Regions from separate parts of the Homo sapiens genome. Here region 2 is linked to region 1. Evidence: fine-mapped expression QTL. Tissue or cell type: thyroid. Region 1 holds a variant in brackets; the other region holds the start of a gene. All regions are shown on one strand. Distances are between the middles of the regions.

Region 1 (8,192 bases):
TGATTATTCATTAAATAATTCAACTAAATTCATAGACGTTATTAAAAACATTGAAAATTATTCTAAGATCAATAACTTACATAAATACTTAAGTAACAGTGCTCCTTCCACACTTTATTTCTGCCAATATGTGGTTTTTTCCTTTAACATCACAGAGCAACTAATATCTTCTAATGATAGAGATTGGAGAAAACTCTTCCCTGCTATGAGAATAATAATGAGAGAAAAATATTAGTTCTAGTAAATAACACTTTTAGGAATACAATTGATCCTCCAAATCCTTGAGTTCCTCATCTGTGGATTTAACCAACCTCGGGTAGATAATATTCAGAAAAAAACACAATGACAATACAATACAAAATAATACAAATGAGACACAATACAGTATGACAACTATTTACATACATTTGCATTGTATTGAGTATTATACATAATGTAGAGACGACTTAAAGTACGTGAGAGGATGTGCATAGGTTATATGCAAATACTATGCCATTCTATATAAGGGACTTGAGCATCTGTGGATATTGATACCATCCAGAGGTCCTGGAGCCAATCTCCAGGAGTTTGTTCATTTCTCACTGACGATTCATAGTAGTTTGATCTCTAACATGGGATCAGAATTGGACAAATTATTTTTTCCAGAATTTATTATTTATTTATTTTAAACTTTTCATTGAAATATAAAGTATGTACCGATATGTACACATTAGATTAAATGTATAGCTTGATGAATTTTTATAAACTGCCCCTTGTGTGATCAACACAAAGAATAGCTAGTGCTTTTATTTATTTTTGCAAATTTCTTGACGTCTGTTGCTCATGATCAAATACTTTCCCTCCGTAAATGTCAACAAATTCATTCTATTTTCCTGTTTACCATGCTTGTGAAAAAGAATGAATTGTTCCCCATTGTAATGAATCAATATGCTGCTGATATATTCCAGAAACAAAATATGCAGAACATGACCCTTTGAAACTATGATTTCAGCCTGATTTTACAAAGAAAAGGAAATTATCTCCATAATAGAATCAACTGCTGGAAGATCCTGAGCATACACAGATTTGGATTTTGGCAAGATAATATTGCTTCACATCAGCAAAATGCTCAGATAATTATGAAAGAGCATAGAAGTCCTTATTCCAAGCAAAATTGTTCTTTTTTTCATAATCTGAGTTCAGTAAATTCCTACTACATTGTTATCCATCCAACATACTTTACTCCACATTTTACCTCTTTTTAAATATTTCTTTGGAATTCTAAAGATGAAAACATTCATTTTGTCACCTTTTCTTTGTTCCATTTGAGGGAGATACGTGCCCCATTGCAAATGGTGCCTCTATTACTATTACTATTTTACTATATTGCGGTAAGAGTGTGGGATTCTGTCCTGCCTAATATAGCAATTATCTGAAGTCCAGACTCTTTAACTTAAATTGCCTTTATTTTAAGTTAGGTGACTAATAGTTATACACCTATTGTTCCTTTTCCCTGTTTGTCTTTCGTCAATCATGTGGATTTGCTAGTCCCTTGGAAACTTCAATGCTGATTCTCATTGAAGTGTTTTAAGGATACTGAATCAACACATGTTATTTTAAGTCCTGCATCCTAAGACTTTTCTCCCCTGTAATAGCTACATATATGTCTAGAGTCTTAATAGCAACAGATGTTGCCAGCACTCAGATACCCCCCAAACACATGGGTAGACTATGTCTTTTAAGTTTTCCTTCTGTGTATTCTACAACAGTGACTTATGCAACTGGAGTTTTAGGAAAGCTAATAGATATATTTTAAGTTTTTAAATTTTACCTTTCTTACCACACATGAAGGCTTAATGATGTCTGCAGTCATCCATGTGCCATCTTGTAGATCTCCACGAGTGATTCCTGACATGTGAAATTATAGGGAAAATATGCCTTTTGATGAATAAACCAACGATGAAATTGTAACACATTTTATGATCACTTATGGATACAGCAAAAACAAAAACAAACAAAAAAGAACAACAACAAAAAAAACTACCACTTCTTAATGTCAGATTATATAGTGTATAAAAGGCTCCAGGAGAGATATAGTATGCCTGATACTTATACCTGTGTATTAATTTCAGCATTTGGAAGGTGCTATCAAAATATATGTCAAAGAAAGATGACAAATTACCAAAGCATCTGTTCCCTGGGGAAAAGATTCCAAGAATAAGCAAGAAAATATAATAACTTAATTTTAAACGTACATGGAACCAGAGATAATACATGAGCAGTCTAATTCTGCCCTTCTCTTTTATTAATTCCAGAAAAAGAAATAAATAATTGACTCTTTGTCTGTGTTACTGTTTGTCAGTACAAGAAAAAAAGAATAATGCATTGAGCTTTCTGTATTTCTTACTCTTAAGGATCTCTCTTTGTCCATTGTTTAGATTTTCAGCAGAATTTGATTTCCGGACATATGATTCAGAAGGCGTGATACTGTACGCAGAATCTATCGATCACTCAGCGTGGCTCCTGATTGCACTTCGTGGTGGAAAGATTGAAGTTCAGCTTAAGAATGAACATACATCCAAAATCACAACTGGAGGTGATGTTATTAATAATGGTCTATGGAATATGGTACGTTTGCAGATTTCATCAATATCTTCCCACTTTGATGCAGTCTGTATAAAATCATAATTTATTTTTATAGTGATACCAAACCAAAATGGATTTGGAGTTATCTGATGCTATATGAGGTATATTCTACATACTGTAAATCCCTGAAGCATCCTGAGAAATAATATTCTCACTTAATATATTAGAATCATTGTTTTTAGTTATTTGCTTGAACTACTCTGTCTTTAACTTTTTACCTTTTTTAGTTGCTGTTTGGTGAACAGTGGTGTTAGGGACTATTAGGAGGCCTAACATTTTTTTTTTTTTTTGAGACAGAGTTTTGCTCTTGTTGCCCAGGCTGGAGTGCAGTGGCGTGATCTCAGCTCACTGCAACCTCCACCTCCCAGGTTCAAGTGATTCTCCTGTTTTGGCCTCTCGAGTAGCTGGGATTACAGGCATGCGCCACCATGCCCGGCTAATTTTGTGTTTTTAGTAGAGACGGGGTTTCTCCGTGTTGGTCCAGCTGGTCTCGAACTCCAGACCTCAGGTGATCCACTTGCCTTGGCCTCCCAAAGTCCTGGGATTACAGATGTGAGCCACCGCGGCTAGCATATTTTTTTTTTTTGAGACAGTCTCACTCTGTCTGCCCAGGCTGGAGTGCCGTGGCATGGTCTTGCCTCACTGCAACCTCCACCTACTAGGTTCAAGAGATTCTTGTGCCTCACCCTCCTGAGTAGCTGGGATTACAGGTGTGCAACAGCATACCTGGCTAATTTTTGTAATTTTAGTAGAGACAGGTTTTCACCATGTTGGCAAGGCTGGTCTCAAACTCCTGGGCTCAAGCTATTCACCCACTTCGGCCTCCCAAAGTGCTGGGATTACAAGAGTGAGCAACCACACCCGGCTGGCATAACAATTTATGCAAAGACAACACTGATCAAGGAAAACTCCTCAATTGCCAACAATATTTTTTAAAGTAAGGAGAAATAAACATAGTAACAAGTCTAAAAAGGTAATTCAAATTCAAATATAAGCAGATAGATAAGTAATCCTTAAAAAAAAATAGACACAGGGTCTTGCTATGTTGCCCAGGCTGGTCTTGAACTCAAGGAATCCTCCTCCCACTTTGGCTTCCCAAAGTGCTGGGATTACAGGCATGAGCCATTGTACCGGACCTAGTTGTCAGTTTTTGTGCAAATGATATACATTAGCAGGTACCAGTGTGCTTAGAAATCAGCATTTTAGGCTGGGCGCAGTGGCTCATGCCTGTAATCCCAGCTCTTTAGGAGGCCAAGGCAGGTGGATCACCTGAGATCAGGAGTTCGAGAGCAGCCTGACCAACATGGCGAAACCCCATCTCTATTAAAAATACAAAAATTAGTCAGGCTTGGTGGCGCACGCCTGCAATCCCAGCAGGAGAATCATTTAAACCCAGGAGGCGGAGGTTGCAGTGAGCCGAGATCACGCCACTGCACTCCAGCCTGGGTGACAAAGCAAGACTGTCTCAAAAATAAAAAGAAAGAAAGAAAGAAAAGAAATTAGCATTTTAATTTAATCCTACATATAGCCTTTAATCTAATGATCAAGAATAGCACTTTAATCAACTGGATTAAAGTGGGACTTTTCTGAAGGGATTACTGCTAGTTGATAGTGGGGAGAAGTCTTTTCTGAAGTATAGAGTCATTGCTGCCATCAGCAGAGGATAGCTGAGAGAAGATTGGCTTCACCTTAGAATGTGGTGCACAAAAGAGACATCTTTTATGCCTAGAGGAGCTGGCAAGAAGTTTGTGCTGATCTCAATTTATTTATTTATGTTATTTATTTATTTATCATCACTATTATTACTATTATTTTGAGACGGAGTCTTGCTCTGTCACCCAGGCTGGAGTGCAGTGATCTCTGCTCACTGCAACTTCTACCTCCTGGGTTCAGGTGATTCTCTTGTCTCAGCCTCTCGAGTAGCTGGGACTATCAGTGCCTGACACCATGCCCAGGTAGTTTTTGTATTTTTAGTAGAGACAGGTTTCACCATGTTGGCCAGGCTGGTCCTGAACTTCAGACCTCAGGTGATCAATTCTCCTCAGCCTCCCAAAGTGCAGGGATTACAGGTGTGAGCCACTGCACCCAGACAAGAAGTTTGTATTGAGAAGTCATGTGAGGTCATCACTAAATTATTTTGGTCCTTCATTTATGCAGACATGCACTCATTTATTCAGTAAGCTTTTAGTGAGTGCTTTTGATGCTAAGTTCCTGAGTTCAAGGCATTAGAACTATAGCATATCGGGGAAACCTGCCCCCAATATTTCATTGTAGGGTCTTTCTATTTTCCATAAGTGTC[G/A]GCTGGCTGAGAAATAAAGAGAAAGAGTACAAAGAGAGAAATTTTACAGCTGGGCCTCCAGGGGTGACATCACATATCGATAGGACTGTGATGCCCACCTGAGCCACAAAACCAGCAAGTTTTTATTAAGGATTTCAAAAGGGGAGAGGGTGTAAGAACAGGGAGTAGGTCACAAAGATCACATGCTTCAAAGTGCAAAAAGGAGACCAAAGATCACATGCTTCTGAGGAAACAGGACAAGGGCAAAATCAGAAACTACTGATAAAGAGTCCAACAAAGACCACAAGCCAAAGGGCAAAAGCAGAATTATTGATAAGGGTCTATGTTCAGCGGTGCACGTATTGTCTTGATAAACATCTTAAACAACAGAAAACAGGTTTTGAGAGCAGAGAACTGGTCTGACCTCAAATTTACCAGGGTGGGGTTTTTTCCCCACCCTAATAAGCCTGAGGGTACTGCAGGAGACCCGGGCGTATTTCAGTCCTTATCCCAACTGCATAAGACAGACACTGCCAGAGCGGCCATTTATAGACCTCCTCCCAGGAATGCATTCCTTCCCCAGGGTATTAATTATTAATATTCTTTGCTAGGAAAAGAATTTAGCAATATCTTCCCTACTTGCAGGTCCGTTTGTAGGCTCTCTGCAAGAAGAAAAATATGGCTCTATTTTGCCCGACCCTGCACGCAGTCAGACCTTATGGTTGTCTTCCCTTGTTCCCTAAAATCGCTGTTATTCTGTTCTTTTTCAAGGTGCACTGATTTCATATTGTTAAACACACATGTTTTACAATCAATTTGTACAGTTAACACAGTTGTGATCCTGAGGTGATGTAGATCCTCAGCTTATGAAGATAACAGGATTAAGAGATTAAAGTAAGACAGGTGTAAGAAATTATGAGTATTATTTGAAAACTAATAAATGTCCATGAAATCTTCACAATTTATGTTCCTCTGCTGTGGCTCCATCCAGTCCCTCCATTCGGGGTCCCTGACTTCCCGCAACAATAGCAAGAGATTTTCCTTGCTCTAGAGCTTAGTACCTCACAGATAAGTAGCTGATGCTTCTTTGGGAAATAATATAATGTAACATGAAATACATTACATTAGAGGTACAAACAAAGCACACTTGGGCAAACGTGGTGAATTTATAAATGATTACATCTTATCTTTGATTATGAGTCTAATATTAATAGGAATTTTAATTGTAAATGTATCATAATTCATTCAGCAAAATATTTATTGGCACTTCTATGTGCTAATCCTTATTCTAGGTGGTAAAGATACAACAGCAAATAAAAAAAAGTCAGTGCTCTTATGGAGCTTGCGTTCTAATGGTGAGACGCAAACAACAAATGCATGAAAAAATAAATATGCCAGATAGTTATTCATGTTATAAGGAAAAAGAAAAGCCAGACAAAGACATAGAGAGTAATGGTGGTTAGTATGCATATAGAATCAGGAAAGGCATCTCTGATGAGATTAGATCTGAGCTGAGACTTGAGAGCACATGTCATGAGAAATAAATGAGGGAATATAAAAAGATTCTGTACCATGTAAACAGCAAGTACAGAATTTCTTGGAATAGGATGTGTTTGGTATTTGAGGAATAACACAGAGTAGTGTAGCAGCAGGGGAGAGTAGTTAGAAAATGAGGTTAGAAACGTGGTCTAGAATAAGATCATCTAGGGCCTTGGAGGCCATGATGAGGATGTGGATTTTATGCTAAATTGAAAGGCCCTGGATGGTTTTGAGAAGGGACATGATCTAGTTTGCATTTTAAAAGATAATCCCAATCAGAAGCTAATGGCTTTGTGGAAACCAGAAGTGGAGAATGAGTGTATAACAGGATATGGGGATATGGAGTTAGGAGACTGTTGGAATAACCCAGCGGAGAGAAGATGACAGTTTGACTGGTGTGCTGATGGTAAGAGTGGTAAGAAGTGGTCAGATTCTGGATATATTTTTGAAGTTAAGCCTTCAATTAAAATTTTTGAATACTCAGCATAAAGAGGGGTTTTAAGGCCATGAAACTGTTTGTGTTGACCAGTGGTTCCAAACACTATCTCATCCAATGTCTGAAAATATATAATGCTCCTTTACTATTCTATAATGAAATGTATCAGTAATATAAACTACCTTCACATATACCCAATCAAAACCAAAATAATTCTGTCATTATTATATTAATATGGATAAATAAAAGGAAAGTAATTTATAAGAAAATAATATGTATTTCAATATATACGTAGTCAACTATAACTATAACACTTGTCAAAGCTTGCTTCTATGCATAAAGTAAAAGCTACAAATGAAGACTAATGCTGGGGTGTTAAATTAGCAACTCAAGTACCATTAAGGGCATACATGGTGTTGCCATTGGTAATATTAATTTTCCAAAGTGGTGGGAAGTTCCTGGTAAAGATATGAACAAAACAAATATCAATCTATCCTTAGTTGTCAAGATTATTACATTCTTGAAAAATGTAATGAATGCTAAAATAGTGCAGCAAATATTTTGTGTCTATGTATGCACAAACTCAGATGATTGTAAGCATGAATATTCCCTACATGAATACCTAGCAGTGATGTTCAAAAGATTTTAAGAATACTTGATATTTTATTATTAGTTCTGCATTACTTATTATTATTAATTCTGCATGACTAGCCTATGTACATAATGCAGATTGTCTATCATCTTGCAGTGCCAGCATGGCCCCTACTCATTGTGACAAATAAAAGTGTTCCTCACCTCCAAATTTTCCAAATGCCCTGGAGTGGAGTCATAGTGTCTCACTTAAAATACTTGCATGGCTACAGGAAAAAGGTCTGGGGCCTGAGCTGTGGGGAGGGGAGGATCCAGCAAAGGAGACTGAGAAGTAGTGGTTAGAGTGTAGAAAGAGAAGCAATCAGGGTCAAGTGTTGTAGGCTAAGTTAAGAAAGTCTGTAAAGGAGAGAATAGTTGTTCACATGCTGCTAATTGGCTATATTAAAGAAGGAGTGTTGACCAACTTTAAATTTGTGTAACTAAATTTATTTTATGTTGGAGGATAGTTTTTCCCTTCCTATCATGGTGTTTTAATATGCTTATTGTTTGGCTTATATTATTGGTTAGTGAGTGAAGAGTTTGCTCTTTGAGTGCTATAGTTTTACTTGAAGTGATTGCAGCAGTGGTTCTTCAAATTGCCTTTGTAGAAGGAATTTTTATTGTTGTTTACCCTTACTTGAAACCTTTTTTAAAAACCCAAACAACTCTCAAAATTGGAAAACT
Region 2 (8,192 bases), 140 kb before region 1:
ATAATTTAAGGTCAGATAATATGATGCCTCCAGCTTTGTTCTTTTTGCTTAGGACTGCTTTGGCTATTCAGGCTTTTTGGTACTTTTTCTTATTTTGAGAGGCATCATTATGAACTTATGGATTTAAAAATGTATTTGATGTGTTTCAATTTGTTGCAGTTATTGCTCTTTTTAAGGCTCAAAGGTACCCATTTTGAGGCAGCAGGAGTCCCCTTCAGGTTGGCTCTTGGACCCTTTTGGTACAACTCCAACAGTCTTTGATAGCTTCTTTATGTTCTACTATGAAACAAGGTTCCAGACTTGCAATCATCCATTTCCCCAAGAAGCCTTGATCTTTTCAGTGGAAAATGGCATTTTAAAGACTAAAACCTAGGAGTTATAGATAAACATTTGCTATTGACTTACTACTGCTTCTAGGCCCTTTCAGTGCACAAAGCTAGGAAATAGTTTTATTCTAGAAAAAAAAAAAATCTAACCATGTATTCGTGTTGATTTTTTCATTTCAAATCAACTACCAAGTTTTACTTAGCTTCTTAAATCTTGTTTTTGTTTATTTCTTTGAGACAGGGTCTCACTCTGTTGCCCAGGCTTAAGTGCAGAGGTGTGACAACAGCTCACTACAGCCTCTACCTCCCAGGCTTGAGCCATCCTCCCACCTCAGCCTCTCAAGTAGCTGGGACTACAGGCGCATACCACTATGCCCAGCTAGTGTTCGAACGTTCTTTTTTTAAAAAATTATTTTAGCAGAGATGGGGTTTCACTATGTTCCCCAGGCTGGTCTCAAACTCCTAGGCTCAATCCTCCTGCCTCAGCCTCCTAAAGTACTGGATTACAGGCATGAGCCACTGTGCCCAGCCTTAGATCTTATTTGTATCTCTTTTTACTTATGCTGAAAACTACAGTTTCTAATGACATTATTTGTTTTATCCAACTATATATAGGAATTTTAACATAATAATATCAATATGATTACTAAATATTAAGACTACTAAGTGCAGGTTAACATATCTTTGTGGTTACGTATCTTTGTCTCTACGCTATATCCCACTAGAGATGCAGAGTCAATAATACTGTTTTAAAATTACTTAAAATAGTACTTCTCTGTGTGGTTTTGCCATCACCTAGATATATACCTAGGTTCATTTCTTTCTAGGTGCTTTTGCATTTTAGAGATCGTTTGTGTATTTGTTTTAAGATTTAATTTCTAAAATATTTATATCGGCTGGACGTGGTGGCTCACACCTGTAATCTCAGCACTCTGGGAGGCCAATGTGGGTGGATCATTTGTCAGGGGTTCAAGACCAGCTTTGCCAACATGGTGAAACCCTGTCTTTACTAAAAAAAAAAAAAAAAAAAAATGAGCCAGGCGTGGTGGCGTGCACCTGTAATACCAGCTACTCGGGAGGCTGAGGCATGAGAATCGCTTGAACCCAGGAGGCAGAGGTTGCAGTGAGCCGAGATCGCGCCACTGCACTCCAGGCTGGGTGACAGAGTGAGACCCTGTCTCAAAAAATAAAAATAAAAAAATATTTATATGGTTCTAAATTCAGAACTATAAAAACAAGGTACAATCAGAAAGGAACTATTTGCTATCTCTCTGCCTTTTCCTTCCCTTCCCTTATAGGTAACCATTTTCATTCGTGTTTAGTTCATCCTCCCATTATTTCTTTTTGAAAATATAAACAAGCGTATGGAGAAAATGGTATTTCAAGGACCATAATTTGGGCACTGTGAATATTCAATGCTATTGACTGGTTTATGTATTTGTGTATATATACAATATTTATATCTACCCTTCCTTTCTTCCTAAAACTTAGCATATTATATATATTCTTCTGCAGCATGCTTGTTTTAACTGAACAGTAAATTTTGAAGTACCCTGAAGCAGTATAATAAAATCTTCACTATTTTCTATAATTGCAAAATGCTCCCCTTTGAATGTTCCATCATTTATTCAGCCAGTTCTACGCTGAAGGACTTTTGTGTTTCCAGTGTTTTGTTTTTACAAAGAGTGCTATAAAAAGTAGGTGTGTAAAGGAGTCATTTCTTATTTTGAGTACAGATTCCAGGAAGTAGAACTGTTAAAACAAAGAATAAATATAAATGTGATTGGCCGGGCATGGTGGTTCACATCTGTAATCCCAGAACTTTGGGAGGCTGAGGCAGGTGGATCACCTGAGGTCAGGAGTTCGAGACCAGCCTGGCAAACATGGTGAAACCCCATTTCTACAAAAAAATTAGCTGGGCGTGGTGGCAGGCAACTGTAATCCCAGCTACTTATGGGGCTCAGGCAGCAGAATTGCTTGAACCCGGGAGACGGAGGTTGCAGTGAGCCAAGATCGTGCCACTGCACTCCAGCCTGGGCTACAAGAGCAAGACTCCTTCTCAAAAAAAAAAAAAAATAAAAAAAAAATAAATATATATATATATATATATATATATATATATATGATTTTGATAGATACAGCAATTTCCTTCTTCTTGCCCTCAAATAGTAACAAGTCAGGTAGAAAAAATGGGTCTGAAATTTGGTAGTACAAGAGAAATTTTCATTTTTAATTCTTCCTATAAACATTTCCCTCTGGTATAAATTAATTTTGAGTTGTTATATTGACAAAATAAATGATTTAACATATATTGCTGGATAACTTTAGTTCTATATAAAATTTATTTTAAAATAAAAACAGCAGGCATAATAAAAAGTAAAAAAAATTAAAAGTAACGTGGGATGAATGGTTTACAGACATGAGCTCTTTCCTGGATGTTCTCCTTCTGAAATTCTATGATTTTGTGAGCTAAGCTCTTTTGGGATTTCCTAAAATAGGACAGATTTCAACCATTTTAAAGTAAATGGAACAAAAAAAGCTTTTACACCAAGCTTCTTTTCATTCCTATTTAATTCCATATTTTTAGTAAGTTTTGATATCTATAGAAAAGAAAGTAACCTTTGTTTAAATACAAACCCATTTTCTTGGAATAATATATTACATATACAATGTAGGACTAAATTTGCAGATCCAGTGCCAAATACTCTACGTAGGCAGTTTAACGAGGACTTCCTGTTACCGACTAGCTCCAATGAAAATGATCTTCCTTTAATCTAAAGAATAGGCGTCTAACAGGCAGAACCAGATTCTCCAGGTGTGAAGTAAGCAATCTATTTTCACTTGCTATTAACAGCAAACGTACAACTTTATCTCTTATTTGACTTCATTATTTGGCTTTCAAATTAACAACATGAAAACTATACAGAAATTAGTCTGTGCCCTATAAGACAGAGATTTAGATAATTTGTTCAAAACATGAGATGATATTCAGATATTCTCTCAAAGGCAGGACTCCAACACCGCAGGTGGAAAACCAACAAAAGGAAGAAAACAGAAAGGTAAATAATGACTCTTTTCTGTACTTTTTAATATGAGGTATCCATAGACTGACATCTGGTTACACTGTTACATTTAAAAATCACTCAACAAATAATGAGGGTTACTTGTTTTGCTCAGATTTGGACCGGGGTACCAGTAGCTGATTTGTTCACATATATTACTGACATGCTGACTGGGATCTGGGTATAAAGCTCTTGAAAATAGACTACGATAATAAAAATCAACTTTAGAGGAAAGAAAAAATTTTTAAGTCTTTTAAAAAGTAAGCTCTCATTTAAAAAATACTAGAAAGTCAGATGTAAAAACAGATCTAAAATTATTTCTTTTATAGACAGACTATGAATGTGCTTACTTTAGAGAACATTTTTATATTTCACTCTGAAAAGCAGCTTATACCCAAATTTGACACATACGTATAACCTTAAAAATCTGAAATAATTTGCTATAATGGTCTTAATTGCTTCATTGTTGTTTACTAGAATCTTCTAAAATTGAAAAAATGAGAAAATAATCTTGTGAAAGGGCTACCAGAAAATATCGAAGTACTCACTAACCTTTATAATATTTCAACTAGTACATTAAAAATACTTGTTATACCATTTAACGTAAGTGTTAGCATTTAATTGATAGTTTGAAAAATTTAAATCAGCATCATTTAAATACAACATATGTAGATAGGTTAGATACTTTCAAAGTTATAATTGTTACTATGTTAGAATTTAATAAATATTCCATTTCAAATCAAAATAATAATGACTTTTATATGTATTTTAAAGGTGGACTTGAGAATTGGCCACGTAATACCTCGAACACATTATCTTCACAGCTATGCAGTTTTAAATGTAATATAAAAATCATTTTATGTATGTACAGCTTACTTGAATCAGATAAAAGTTCAAAAATTATACATCATATTTAAACAAAAATGATCTTAATGTTGTTATACAAGTTAATTCAATAAGTTATTTAGACTAAATAAAATGTAGAAAAAAGCATTGAAAGTTTACATTGCAAAAAAAGTCAGATACTTCAAAATTAGACAATATATGCAATTTGCAATTTTTTTTTAGTTTTTAGAAACTACTATTTGGCCCTCACTTTAGTAGCCAAAGAGGTTAATATATTACAATAAGATCCTCTGCTTTCACTTGCACTAGAAAAATGTGGCAAGTTGACTTCATATACAAAAGCAACAGAATATTCTGTTTTCTCTTGGGTAAAAACTGGTCATATTTCTTGAAATGTTTTATTTAATCATTACAGTAACTATGAAAAGAAATGGCCTACTTTAAAAAAATCTATAAATACACTAAGTATCTATCCCAGGGCATATTTCTAAAAGTACAAGGTAATTTTTACTCATGTTTCTGTTTCTAGGGATTTTCAGTGTCTGTAATAGGGCAGAGAACCTTTTATTTGAGTCGCACCAGTTTACTTTTCTATTTCCCAGAACAAGTTGTCCAAGTTGATTATCATACATACGAGTTAGTGTTCTTTCTTTTTTAAATATCATGTTTAAGCTCACAGATACAGTTCTTGCTAGTAAAATTCAAAACTGTATAGCAATGCTGCAAGTTAAACATAATAAAAGATGATTCATATTTGTATATAACTCTTCCAACATAATAAATTTAAGGTACATAACAGACTGCATAAAATAGTAATTTCATCAATTTCACCTAGTCTAAGCAATTAAATGATTTCACAACTATGAGCTTCATATTTTATGCTTATATGAATCCTGTCCTTGCATGTTTTAAATTCTAACATGCTTATTTGTCTCATTTTGCCTAACATTCTAATTCATGAAGATATAAGATCAATAAATTGGATAGTTATACATATAGTTATGAGTATGCAACTACTAGAAAATGTAATTTATATACAGCATATAAACATATTTGAGTACCTATCAAGTCAATTTCTACACAGATGAACAAGGATTTAGGGAAACATTCTCAATTATGTTAATTCTATAAAGATAAGCAACTGTGACTTTCAGTCAAAATGCACAGATACAGAAGTTACTCCCTCTTTCTCTAAACATACAGAATTTGATGTAATCGTAAGTTTAAAAAAGACAAATTTTAAAACAACATCACTAAATTTTAGAGTAAAAAAGCGAAGTTTTCTCCTGGCTCACACGGTGAAACCCCATCTCTACTAAAAATATAAAAAGTTAGTCGGGTGTGGTGGCGGGCGCCTGTAGTCCCAGCTACTCTGGAGGCTGAGGCAGGAGAATGGCGTGAACCCGGAAGGCGGAGCTTGCAGTGAGCCGAGATGGTGCCACTGCACTCCAGCCTGGGCGACAGAGAGAGACTCCGTCTCAAAAAAAAAAAAAAAAGAGAAGTTTTCAGGTGCCAGAAATGATGAGGAAACATACTTAAAGCCAAAGTGAAGAGTAGTAATTAAAGCTAATTACACTGGGCAAATACTTTACCTTAAAGCTGAGGTTTAGAGTTTGTTGCATTATAGGGAACTAAAACTGAGTTTCCTAGATGAAACAGTTAACTAGGAATAATACAACATAATCTGTATACAAAGACAGGAATAACTCTGTTGACTTGCCCAGGATTATAGCAGGAAGTGAGATATCCACTTAGGCTATAAAAATCACTAGAGAAAAATTAGGCCTACATAATACTACCTGGGCTACAAGGGGCAAACTCCATGGGGCGTTGGTAGTGACAATCAAAAAAATAGCCTCAATGTATCCATAATTGATCAGGACACTCAGAGCATTCTTGTATAACTCCCCAATGAAGCTAGGCTACTGACGAATTTCACTAAATACACTTGCCCACATTTAACAGAGTGGTCACCAGTCCGTGGCCACAGCAAACATAGGAATTTACTCCTAAGAAACTAGAAATAACCTAATAATGTAAAGGATCTTTCACATAAATATTCTCTAAATGTTCAAAAGAAATACAGGCATAGGATCCATAAACCAAGACAAACACAGTATAACCTTTATAGCTCACTTTAAACATCGTTTACATAATACGCATTGCCATGATGTATAACACTGAAAGGAAACCTGATTCTATTTCCATGTTTTGCCTTTAATATCAATAATGTATACAGATATTAAAAAAAGGATATTTTGTTTTTTGCTTGTAAATTCATTAAGATTAATAAAAAGGACATATTAATATATTTTAAAGGGCTCCTTAAAGTACCTTTTATTCAAATATAAAAGTGTGGTGCATGTTCAGGGAATGATATTACATGGATAAAAATCCAGGAAAAAAACAACCTTTATAGAGGTCAGACTCAAATATCCTGCTTTCCAAAATCAGTGGCAGTAAAATGCACCTTCTCAAAGGCACTTCACAGGAAAATTCACCTTCCCAGAGGCCTGTGTACACTGTGCTCCAATAGCAATTTGAAATAGTCTATTTCTTAAAAATTTTTAAACTATGATGCTTTAGAAAAAGGCTTTTGATTACTTTATTTCTAATTTTTTTAAAAAAGAGGCTGGGTGCACTAGCTCATGCCTATAATCCCAGCACTTTGGGAGGCGGAGGTGGGAAGATTGCTTGAGCCCAGGAGTTAGAGATCAGCCTGAGCAACACAGCAAGACCTCATCTTTACAAAAAATTTTAAAAAATCAGCCAAGCACAGTGGCATGCAACTGTAGTCCCAGCTACTCGGGAGGCTGAGGGAGAAGGATCACTTGAGCCTGGGAGGTAGAGGCTGCAGTGAGCCGCAATTGAGCCACTATACTCTAGCCTGGGTGATAGAGTGAGATCCTATCTCAAAAATAAAACAAAACAACACGCCCAAAAAAGGACAAAGATCTTTCCAGTCATAAAAACATTAGAGGGAGTTGTTTCAGGATTTGTTCCAAACCATGCAACCAAAGAGAAAGTTCAAGATGTTGTAGTTCTTGAGGAATGTGAAAATTAAAGATTGTTAAAAGCTACTGAACCATTGTATAAATATAGGACTTAATTTTTATGGATAGAAAATCAAAATCTGTTTTGTTTGATGCCACTTTCTCTTTCTCTCGCCTCTGAGCTTCTAACATTGTTACTCTTTCTTTTTCCCTATATTTACACGGGTGCAACCCAGTTTAAAAAATAATAATGTGGCAACTAGCACTTCAGCTATATATGCTGTATTTTTAAGAATTCATAGTCAAGGTGGAAGGATCCCTTGAGGCTAGGAGTTCAAGACCAGCCTGGACAAAAGAGCGAGATCCTTTCTCTATTAATTGATTAATTAATTAATTTTTAAAAAACAATTCATAGTGACAAGCTAGTACAAGAGAAGGAAACAGAAATTTGGTTAGATGACTATGAGTTGAAGCAGAAGAAAATATAAGAATATCAATCTCCATATAGTACCAAATATAAAATGCAATATTTCTTAGACTTTCTGTAAACATCAGTCTGTGAGATCCAAATTATTTTTCTTCTTTTATAGTGTAAAGTGATCAATTTGGTCTGATTATATTAAAGATCCTAATAAAGCTTCAAACAACAACATTATTTTAGATCCTATATGCTATATTATCTCCTGCTAAATTTTTTCTTTTAAATAGATATAGTATGTATATTAGTAACATAATACAGTATTTGATATAGATAAACATTATTTGTGTATATTTCACTAGGATAACCAATTTCTACTCAATAGACAATAGGGGAAAAAGAACAGATTTGCAATCAAGTAGATATGTCTAAACGTAGGATCTGCCACCTTTTAGTTGTGTGGCCTTAGGCAAGTCACTTTAAAATTCCCCTTATTTGGACGTTGCTTTTCTTGGACTGGACTGTTTCTTTAATTTTCTTAATGTCT

Evidence for each region. PIP is the estimated chance that this variant, and not a neighbour inherited with it, causes the effect.
Region 2: it holds the start of STX19, and the variant in region 1 is fine-mapped to the expression of STX19 in thyroid (GTEx, PIP 0.98).

The regions. Positions count from the first base shown.
Region 1 is chr3:93,887,348-93,895,539 of GRCh38, reverse strand. PROS1 (protein S) reads left to right here. Exons shown (of 15, transcript NM_000313.4): 10 at 2,418-2,607. Among named protein-coding and RNA genes, the nearest start is that of PROS1, 82 kb to the left of the region's middle. The variant G/A (reference allele first, on the strand shown) is at 4,925.
Region 2 is chr3:94,023,560-94,031,751 of GRCh38, reverse strand. STX19 (syntaxin 19) reads left to right here and starts at 3,155. Exons shown (of 2, transcript NM_001001850.3): 1 at 3,155-3,385. The region is part of intron 3 of ARL13B (ARF like GTPase 13B); the gene reads right to left.